Linked DNA regions of Homo sapiens. The protein of the gene in region 1 purifies or fractionates together with the protein of each later gene. This does not show direct contact. Each region holds a gene or a part of one and is shown in the gene's direction. Other genes may lie near its edges. The genes, in order: PRR27, CACNG6 and GNPTAB.

Region 1 (3,027 bases):
GGCATTTCTGTGTCTTATTCAGCACTTTATCAGGGCCTATAACAATGCCTGGGACATATTCAGTGACCAGTGAATATTTTTGGAAGGAAAGAAAAGAAGAAAGAATGAAGTAACAAACAAAGAATGAAGGAAGAAAAAATTTTTACAAACATTCAACATATTTTTATTTTGAAATAATTTTGTATTTTTCCCTATATCCTACATTGGATCAGAATATTACTGTTATGTATAGCCATGAGGACATGGTCTCAAAAAATGAGAAACTTTCTTAGACAGTAAAATTGTTAACTTGAGATGTTTGCTTCCATCTTCTAGAGCCAAGTAGGATCTAACTTTAATTTGACTTAGCCAATAATCTGAAACTATTATAGTATCTGTCTTTCACAGATACATGCAATATTCACTTCTAAATATTTAATGATAAATTTGTAATCATACATGATAGTCAATTTTAATGATTATGTTGTCAAAATTCAGGCTTTTTGTGTGAATTGAAGACTTAAAGAAGAATTTGTAAATATGACTGTATAAGAAACAACAGAAAGATGAAGATGAACCGAAATAGAAATATCAAGAGGCTACAAAGTCTTAGCAAATTATAATTGCTAATGGTACATTATGTGGTGTTTAGTATCACATTTAGAATGTAGTCATTTGTTAAGTTTTTCATGGGGTAAAAGAAAGAATTTATTCCAAGAAAATTTTGGAATTTTAAAAATAAACATGACATCTTATCATGAGAAACATTTACAGTTTTTGCTTTTACTACAAGATACTGTGAAATGTTCTGCTCTGTCAGTTGTGAAAGTATGAAATTTAAGTCTATCACTACAATAATATTTTGTTTTTAGTGTTCATTTTTTTCCTCCTGACTACATTGAGATGAGTTAGATTGAGTGAAAGGTAAACACTAACATTTGAATTGAGGTAATTTCCACTGTGGAAAACAAACTGTTGTTAGTAAACAGGCATCAGCTTTGAGACACAGAAAAGTCATCCAAACCAGAAGATTGGGAACTTCCTCAATTACTTTGTCTTCCATTTATTGCATTCAATTAGTCAAAAATGTTGTTAATTATACATTTTAAAGACTATTTTTGGTAAGGTCTATGACACATTCAAAATACTACATACAAGTTTGTATTATCATAAATAATCCAAAAGAAAACATACATGTAACCACCACCATCTGGAAATTTCACACTAAATTATAAAACATTTCCATCACTGCATGTATTGTTTAATGTCGCTTTATGAATCCACCTTCTTCCTTATCTGTAGAGTTAAAAACTACTTAGTGGATTAGGGTAATTCATTCTACTTTTAAAAATGATTTTTCCACCTCTAATGTATTCTATAAAATAATATTGTTCACTTTTGCCTATTTTTGAGCTTTTTATAGAAAAATGCTACTGCGAAATTATTTTGAGTCATATCTTTTGATCGATATTAAGATACATTTGCAGAGTTTTGTATGTGTGTTTATATCCATCTTACATAATTCTTTACTGTATAGCGTTCCCTTTAGCCACTGGAAAATGATATAATGTCATTGCTTACAGAAGGTGACTGATTCTTATTCAGTGCTACTTTCTACAGACAGGTAACTATTCGCATTTACGATTAAGAAATGTTCACACCTTCACACTGGTATCAACTGCAACAACCACTATACTTCTCCAGTGATTGCCAGATGGCCCACTATACATCCTTTCTTCTATTTCTTTCTTTTGTGGCCAGAAAGTCAGGACCTCAAAGAGGTATAAGTTTGTGTGTATAATTCCCTGGCTTTTTTCTAAAATTTTAGTATGCATTTATGTGGCACTTAATATATAAAAGAGTTTTATGAGTTTTAAAAATGTATATAAACAAGACATATAATAAATGGTATGTCATTTCACAATTTACTATTTTTACTCAACATTTATATTTCTGAGACTTTTCACATTTTTGAATGTATTCATAGTTTCACTTTAATTGATGTTTGCCATGAAAGATCAAATATATCACATTTTATTTGACTAAAAAGTAAACTATATTTCCTACATTATGCTATAGAACTTATAGACTAATTTAAGTTAATTATAGGCCTTATCTCAGACCTTTGCAAGTAGCCTGAATAAAACTTTTCATTATTTATATTATCACATGCATATATGTGTGTATGTATATATGTGTGCATGTGCATGCATAGTAAAAATCTTAACCCAAAACTGAAATAAAAAATTATAAGAGAAAATACTATTTTCCACCAATATCACAATGGATAATCTTTTTTAAATGACTACATATGTCGATAAGTTACAAAATCCATATATGAGTATGACACCAATAAGAACATTTTCTCTAACCATTTTGAATACGAATAACCATGGATTCTAATAGCAAACATTATTAAAATATTATTGAAATAACTAACTGAAGTAAGTCACTTTTTTTCTTGTTTTTAGTGGGGAGATGTTTGATGCAACTGTGATTCATTCAGTGAAGAGGTAGCACCATAACATTCTTACATTTAAGTATGTTTTAATGCTTTATGTTTTTTAATTCCACATGTGTGTATCCCAATTCTTAACTCTCAAAAATTATTTTATGAAAATTGGTGTAATAATTATGGTCACTATCAAAAAATTTAAGGTAATATTAACAGTATCTTCATTAACTTTAAAATTTTTAATATAAAGTAAGAAAATAGCGTCCTCCATTTCTTATTAAGCTGTATCTAGAGAAAATACAATAAGTAAATTCCTGTAACTTAAGGGCTGGAATTTAAATCAGAGTGTGTAAAAGGGCAACATGAATGCTAAATCCTACCTTCATGTTTTGATGCTTTTCCTTGATTGAAATGTTAATTTACTTATTTTTATTATATAACCAGATAATGGACCAATGGTACATGCAGTGTAGAAATACACCAGTGATATTTTAAAGTACCAAACTTCTCCACTTTTGCTGTGGCAATCCAGTGAGAAGACATCTTCTGTCATGTAATCTTTGTACAGATCTGCACAAGGAAATATATTCCTC
Region 2 (4,353 bases), on another chromosome or scaffold:
TCATTCTGTGCCCCTGACAGCCGGCCCTGCCCTGAGGCCTGCGCTTTCTCCAACATGGAAATCAGGCCTTCCATCCTTCAAGACCCAGGGTTCTGGCCCCAGTCTCCTCCCTGAGGCCCAGGACTCTGGGTCTGCCAACGCCTTGACCAGGAGTCCAGGCTCCCCGGCCCTCCTCCTCCCTCAGACCCAGGAGTCCAGGCCCAGCCCCTCCTCCCTCAGATCCAGGAGTCCAGGCCCCCTGCCCCCTCCTCCCTCAGACCCAGGAGTCCAGGCCCAGGCCTTCCTCCCTCAGACCCAGGAGCCCAGGCCCCCAGCCCCTCCTCCCTCAGACCCAGGAGCCCAGGCCCCCAGCCCCTCCTCCCTCAGACCCAGGAGCCCAGGCCCCCAGCCCCTCCTCCCTCAGACCCAGGAGTCCAGGCCCCCAGCCCCTCCTCCTTCAGACCCAGGAGTTCAGGCCCCAGTCCCTCCTCCCTCAGACCCAGAAGTCCAGGCCCCCAGCCCCTCCTCCCTCAGACTCAGGAGCCCAGGCCCCCAGCCCCTCCTCCCTCAGACCCAGGAGTCCAGGCCCCAGCCCCTCCTCCCTCAGACCCAGGAGTCCAGACCCCCAGCCCCTCCTCCCTCAGACCCAGGAGCCCAGGCCCCCAACCCCTCCTCCCTCAGACCCAGGAGTCCAGGCCCCCAGCCCCTCCTCCCTCAGACCCAGGAGTCCAGGCCCCCAGCCCCTCCTCCTTCAGACCCAGGAGTTCAGGCCCCAGTCCCTCCTCCCTCAGACCCAGAAGTCCAGGCCCCAGTCCCTCCTCCCTCAGACTCAGGAGCCCAGGCCCAGCCCCTCCTCCCTCAGACCCAGGAGTCCAGACCCCAGCCCCTCCTCCCTCAGACCCAGGAGTTCAGGCCCCCAGCCCCTCCTCCCTCAGACTCAGGAGCCCAGGACCTAGGAGACCAGGTTCCTCTCCTCTCAGATCCAAGATTCTGGGTACCCAGGCCTTCTTCCTCTACCACTCAGAAGTGGGGTACCGAGGCTTCTTCTCCCTTAGGGACCCAAGACTCCTGGCCTCAGGCCCTCCTCCCTGAGACCCGGGGCCCTGCCTCCCGCCCCTCCTCCCTGGTAACCCCAGTCAGACTTGCTGCCCCGCCCGTCTCCTGCTGCCCGGGAGACTGCGGAGCTGGGACTCTCGGCGCCGCTCTTGCCCCTTAGTGAAATGAAAGTCCCATCAGGCTCGGCCCCTTCCTCCCCGGGCGGCCTCCCTCCCCCCTTCCTCGTCCCCTTAAAACACCCGGGATCCCTATGGCAACAGGCGCCGGGCGACAGGTGCGGGTGTTATTTACGGGTCAAGCCCGAAATAGCCCCGAGGGTGGAGGGTGGAGGGTGGGGGGTGGGCGGGTGGGGACGAGGCCGGGCGCGGGCGGAGGCCAGGCCGGTGGCGGTGGCGGGCACAGCCGGACGCTTCGGAGGCAGCGCGGAGCTGGGGTCGGCGCGGGGCCGAGGCAGGAGAGCGAGAGGGGCCCCTGCTCGGGAGTCGGGGGTGGGAGCCCCGAGGGGGGGCCCTGGCCTGGGGCTGAGCCTGGCGCGAACCCGACCGGGAAGGCCCTGGGAGCCCGGGGGAGGGAGACGGACTGATCCCGAAGGGGCGCAGCGTCTCTTGCGGGTCGCGGTTGGCCTTTGAACCCTGGGGGGACTCAGTCCTGGTTTTCCGAGCCGCAGTGCGGACCACAGCCCCATAGTGTGAGCCCCAGGAGGGCCCCCGGTCCCATCTGCCCCAGCCCTCGGGGAGGCCCCGTAGCCTCCCGCCTCTGGACTCCACTCTGTCTTCCGGCCACCGGCCCCTTTTCCAGGCTCAGTAGAGACCTCGGATCTTTTCTGAATGGCAGGGGAGACCCCTATCCCCTTTTCCTGAATTCCAGCGAGGCCCAGTCCTCTTCTGAGCCCCAGCCAGGGCTCTGTTCTTCTCCTTCTGTGGATGCCGGGGTCCTACTGCCTCTCTTGAGACCCGGATTGAATTCCGACCTCCCCTTGGGAGCTTCCCGGGACCCCAGGTCTTCCTTTTCCGAATCCCAGAGGGTCCCCAAGTCCTCTGTTCTCAAACTCTGAGCCCAAGGGAACCCCGGCCACATCTCCTCCAAACACACACAGGACCTCAGGTCCCTTCCTGGGTACCCCAAACTCTTAGCCCTAGTGGGGTGCTCAGATCTCTCAGGAAAACCAGTTTCCCTTTTGTTAACCCCCCAGCGGGGACCCCAAAGCAGCCCCTTGGAGCTGCAGGGAGCTTCAGCGGGCACCAGTTCTCATTCCTCTGGAGCTCTTGGGGGGACTCCCTCCTGGGAAGCCGAATTCTATCTCTAAACCTCAGGGTGGGGGCCTTGTTTTTCCTCTGGGCCCCGTCTTCTTTGCCAAGTTCTTGAGGGCAACCTAGACCCTCCTCTGAACCCCAGAGGCTTCCCCAGCCCTGGGGATCATTTTTCTCTTCTGAACCCCAGAAGCAATCTCGACTTTCGCATTTGAGATTCCAGACAGGACTCGGCTCTCCCTCTTTCATACCCAGGGGAAACTGAGTCCCTCACCCCCTTCAAGACCCCAGGCCGCTCCTCGCTCCCGCCCCTCGAGGCCCTTCGCCGGCTCTGCCTCCTCCCCCTTCCCGACCCCACCGGCCATAAGATGATGTGGTCCAACTTCTTCCTGCAAGAGGAGAACCGGCGGCGGGGGGCCGCGGGCCGGCGGCGGGCGCACGGGCAGGGCAGGTCGGGGCTGACGCCCGAGCGCGAGGGGAAGGTGAAGCTGGCGCTGCTGCTGGCCGCCGTGGGCGCCACGCTGGCGGTGCTGTCCGTGGGCACCGAGTTCTGGGTGGAGCTCAACACCTACAAGGCCAACGGCAGCGCCGTGTGCGAAGCGGCCCACCTGGGGCTGTGGAAGGCGTGCACCAAGCGGCTGTGGCAGGCGGACGTGCCCGTGGACAGGGACACCTGCGGCCCCGCGGAGCTGCCCGGAGGTGAGCAGCCGCCGCCCCGAGCGCAGGGCTTGCGTCCCACGGACAGGGAGGGAGAGGGGCCCGTGTCCGAGGAGAAAACCCGCCCCAGGGACAAAAGCCTGAGCCCGGAGGAGACAGCTTGCCTCGCAGTAAGCGCCAGTGCCCACTTCGTCCTCTGCTCTCAGAAACTGCTGAGAGATAGAGGGATCCCCCAGATATGGCCCAGGTCCCTCACGGGCCTACCGCCAGAGAACCTGTGCCTTAGAGCTTGCTTTCCTGCTACAGACTGTACCCCAAGACCAGAATGTGCCTACAGGGAGTCTGTGCCCCCAGGCCATCCTGTACCCCCAGACCAGGCTGTGACCTGAGACCCCCTCAGACGAGTCTGTACCCCTATTCTGCACCTCTAAAGAGAGCTTGTGCCCCCGCCTACAGCCTGTGCCCCAAGACCATCCTGTACCCCGACTATCCTGTACCCCCAGATGAGCCTGTGTCCCCAGCTACAGTTTCCACCCCCAGACTAACATGCACCCCTAGACCAGTCTATACCCCCAGACCAGCCTGCATCCTTACACCAGCCTGTGCCCTCAGATCAGCCTGCACCTCCACACCAGGCTATGGTCCCAGATGATTCTATGACCCCCAAAGTCCCTGCCCCCACACAGCCAATGTTCCCAGGCATCGCTGTGTCCCCCCAGACCAGCCTACAGCTCTAGAGAGAGCCTGTGTCACTAGAAAAATCTTGCCTGTGTCCCCAGACCCAGCCTGTGATTCCAGACACAGCTGGTGTCCTCAGATAGCCTGTGCCCACCCCAGACAGCCTGCACCCTCTGGAAGTGCCTGTGCCCTGGAGACAGCCCGTGCCCACTCTGCATGTGCCCACAGACAGCCTGTGCCCATGGAGAGACAGCCTGGGTTCCTGGTGTCAGCTTCCTCTTCCCAGCCTGGAGACAGCTTGCGCTCCCATCCTGTGAGCCCTGGGGAGACAGACGCCCACCCCAAAGCAGGATCTATGCCTGTTCCCCACCTACTGCTTCCACCAAACCAAGCTCTCACCAGACGCCTCCCAACACCCGAGGGCAGACCTTGTTCCTTCCCTGCAATGTTCTTCACTTCCTGTCCTCTCGCCTCCAAATGCCCAGACTGGACATTTCAGCGTTTCTCATTTTCTCCGAGAGACATTCCCATACTCCCTCCTTTCCCAAATCATGGCTGTTTTATCCCTGGGCATGGCAGAGAGCTGTTCCATACCTCCCTGACACGCCACGCCACGGCTTGTGCTTATACCAGGGGGACATTCTATACCCCTTGGGAACTGGATGAAATCTCCTTCTACCTCCACTGACCCATGGAAAATACCTGGCACTCCTCAGAGCCCATTTGGGCTGTC
Region 3 (3,134 bases), on another chromosome or scaffold:
GTATTAGTGGGGAGGTTGGAGTGGTGAAGAAGTTACTTAGAGTGGGGCAGGGTTGCCTGGGAACTGGAGGCAGGGAGACAAGTATATAAGCATTTCACTAGTCCTAGAAACAGTCAGTCAGGTGTGAACCAAGGATACAGCCTAGGCAATAAAGAAAAAGCAATAGACGAACTGGGAGACACTTTAAAAGGGAAATTGGCAGACCCTGGCACTAGAACTCCTCGGTATCTTGGAGTTGGGCAAATGAGACAATTAGGATGAATATTGCTGCTATCTTTATGTTTTTATTTTCATAAGGAGAAGTTATTACTGAATCATGGGTCTTGTCTCCCAGAAATGGCAAGGAATGGCTTCTCACCGTTTTCACTTTCCCTTAACTCAGAGGAAAAAGATCTTTAGGTGGTTCTAAGTGTTAACTCCCCAAATTCAATTTGTGACTAAATTTACCCTCAAGGGTCCATTTGAATAAGAAAGAAGTGGGCTTAAAAGTAATTTGAGAGGACCTTGATTTCTGTGCTGTACAAATGGTGTGAATCAGGTGTGGGTGCTCTTGCAGTCATTCCCCTGCCCTGGAGGTTGCTTGCTCCTCATCCTGCTTAGTTCTGCATTGTCTCTCACTGCACTGACACTAGACATTAGTTGACAGAGCTGGTTATGATCCTATTAACAGAAGTGGGAAATACAGGGGGAAGAGCTGTGTGTGGGCGAGTGCCGTTTTGGATGTGTGACTTGAGGTAGAGACGCCCAAACAGTGGAAAATGAGAATCTGTAACTCAGCACAGAGGCCAGAGTTTGGTAGTTACTAGCATATCTTCCAAACCTATGGTAAGCATTTTTATTTAATCTTCGTAACCAATTGTTCATTATTTCCAAATTACAGATGAGGAAATGGCTGTACTGCCTCTTTTTATCCTCAGTATTCTCTTGGCTCCAGGTCCAGTTGATTCTACCTCAGGAATGTCTCTTCTGTTGCTTATTTCTTTTCATTGTCACTGCTTCCTTTCATGCCTGGACTAAAACTAAACTGCCTGCCTTCCTTGTTTGTCCATCCTTCAAATGGCCAACATGTTTACCCTGATTATGTCACACATACCCCCACCTGTCTGTTTCATCCACTTTCCCACTAGAGTGTTCTGTCCAGACCCCACGGTGTGGTTTTGCAAAGCAGCTGCAGTTCATACCCTCTCGCCTTCACCTGGCTTAGTTCCCCCCATGCTGCCGCATGGATTCACTCCACTCAGTCCTGTAGGGCCCAGCTGGCCACCGTGCCACTCTACTGCTCCTTCTCTTTCTCATCCATATGCTTCCTGTCCCCTTCAAGGCTTACAGGAAATGCCACCATCTCTGTGGCACTGTCCTCATTTCTCTAAGTTTTTCACATGACTTTGCTTTTGATAATGCATATTTCTGTGTCTTATGTGATGGCAAGTCATCAGTCAGCATGTCAGCAACGCCTCAGTTTTCTAAACACTTAAAAGCAGGGACTTCATCTTGTTCATCTCTCCATATACGCAGGAAGTATTTATCAAGAAACTGAGTGAATAAATAAGTATGAGTGAATAAAAATGAATGAAAGAGTGGTTTTGTTTAAGTGCCAGAAGTAATTTTCTTTTGAAGTCCTCTCTCCTGCCTGGATAACTTCACTAATTCAAGTATAATATTTACTATGACATAATAAAAAATCTGAACTCGTGTTGGAAATGTATATTGTGTGAGCATTTTAGAATTGCAAGACAATGTTTTTGTGTTTCCCAACATTGTTTTTATAGAACTAGTATATAAATAATGCTTAACTAATGGTAGTGAAACCATATACAGAAGTACATAGTTGCTTTCTTCTCTCTGCACAGGAGGGCTTATCGAGACAAATTGAAGTTTTGGACCCATTGTGTACTAGCAACATTGATTATGTTTACTATATTCTCATTTTTTGCTGAGCAGGTAAGTTTTATATATTTTATGTGGGTATTAAATGGTATTTCTTGGTATACTAGCATCTGAATGTTTTAGAAAATGATACACATTTACAATCAAAATTTTAACTTCTCTTATTGTCTTATAGCTCATATGTGAATATGTTAAATATGTTTCACAATATTCAGGCAGCAAATATAACAGTCTTTTATTCATTTCTCTTCTAAATCCATTACCAGTATTCTTTTTATCTGGAACTCAACAGATTAACTTGTAGATATCAGGCTAAAACCAAGTAGCTCTAAGTATTTATAACCAAAAAACCATCTAGAATCCTTATCTAATGTTAATTTTCTATGGGTCTCCAATTTTCTTCCTCTCTTTCACGCTTCCTTGAGTGAGCACAGTGTCTTCAGACATCCCACGGTTCCGTTGTGTTGTCCCACTCACACCAGTAGCTCCCATTTATCTTTCTTTCAATCGCTAGGAGTTCTCCCTCCTCTCTCCTCCTTCCTCCTCTCCTTGTCAGCCCCTCTACACCTGGGCTTTCCTCTGCATGCATGTACACACGCAGCCTCCTTGAGGTGAGTGTCCAGAAGTCGGAGGGAGATTTGTGAGGTAAAGAGAAAGGGATAAGAGAGTCCTCATTAGGCTATTCACATATCAAATACTCTGAAGAAAAAGGATTGAAGGAGGGGAATGGGCATCTTTACCAACCTGACTTGGGTGTGGCAAGTGACTTGGCCTCTGCCTCCAATCAAGGTGACTATTGAGTGGAGCTTTTCTAGCTGTCACTCAAATGAAACGTACACCAAGTTGACTTATACCAAGAAGGACAAGCACCTAAGTACTGAGAGCTTCAGGATAAATGAATGGGCTTCTTGCTGTAAATGGAAGGAAATTCAGGAAACAGAGACTGGGCAGGTGAACAGGACAGCAACTTAACCTTCATCTGCTTTCCAGGGATTGTACATCTTGTTCTTGATGTCTGTTACCATTGTTCCTGGCAGGTAAAAGTCTTATGAAAAATCTCAGAAAGGCTGTACCTGCTTTTAGAACAGGGTCCAGTGAGAAACCTTTGAGTCTGCTGTGCTGACCTAGGATGGGGAAGGAAAGGAGCCCTGACTCAAAGGAGCAGCCATTAATGGAAAGGAAGAGGAGTGTCAGTCTTTCCTCTATCTATACCAGTAGAGAATAGGGAACTAGAGAGGCAGTCTTTC

The links.
Region 2: the proteins of PRR27 (region 1) and CACNG6 purify together in Homo sapiens (affinity purification with mass spectrometry; one large-scale study listed by BioGRID and IntAct). This does not show direct contact.
Region 3: the proteins of PRR27 (region 1) and GNPTAB purify together in Homo sapiens (affinity purification with mass spectrometry; one large-scale study listed by BioGRID and IntAct). This does not show direct contact.

Annotation. Positions count from the first base shown.
Region 1 is NC_000004.12:70,164,196-70,167,222, forward strand, and holds the end of PRR27 (proline-rich protein 27 precursor), read left to right. Parts: 3' UTR 1-2,414; downstream 2,415-3,027.
Region 2 is NC_000019.10:53,990,225-53,994,577, forward strand, and holds the start of CACNG6 (voltage-dependent calcium channel gamma-6 subunit), read left to right. Parts: upstream 1-1,412; 5' UTR 1,413-2,653; coding exon 2,654-2,984; intron 2,985-4,353. UniProt on the Homo sapiens protein: Regulates the activity of L-type calcium channels that contain CACNA1C as pore-forming subunit.
Region 3 is NC_000012.12:101,747,908-101,751,041, reverse strand, and holds part of GNPTAB (N-acetylglucosamine-1-phosphotransferase subunits alpha/beta precursor), read left to right. Parts: intron 1-1,850; coding exon 1,851-1,941; intron 1,942-3,134. UniProt on the Homo sapiens protein: Catalyzes the formation of mannose 6-phosphate (M6P) markers on high mannose type oligosaccharides in the Golgi apparatus.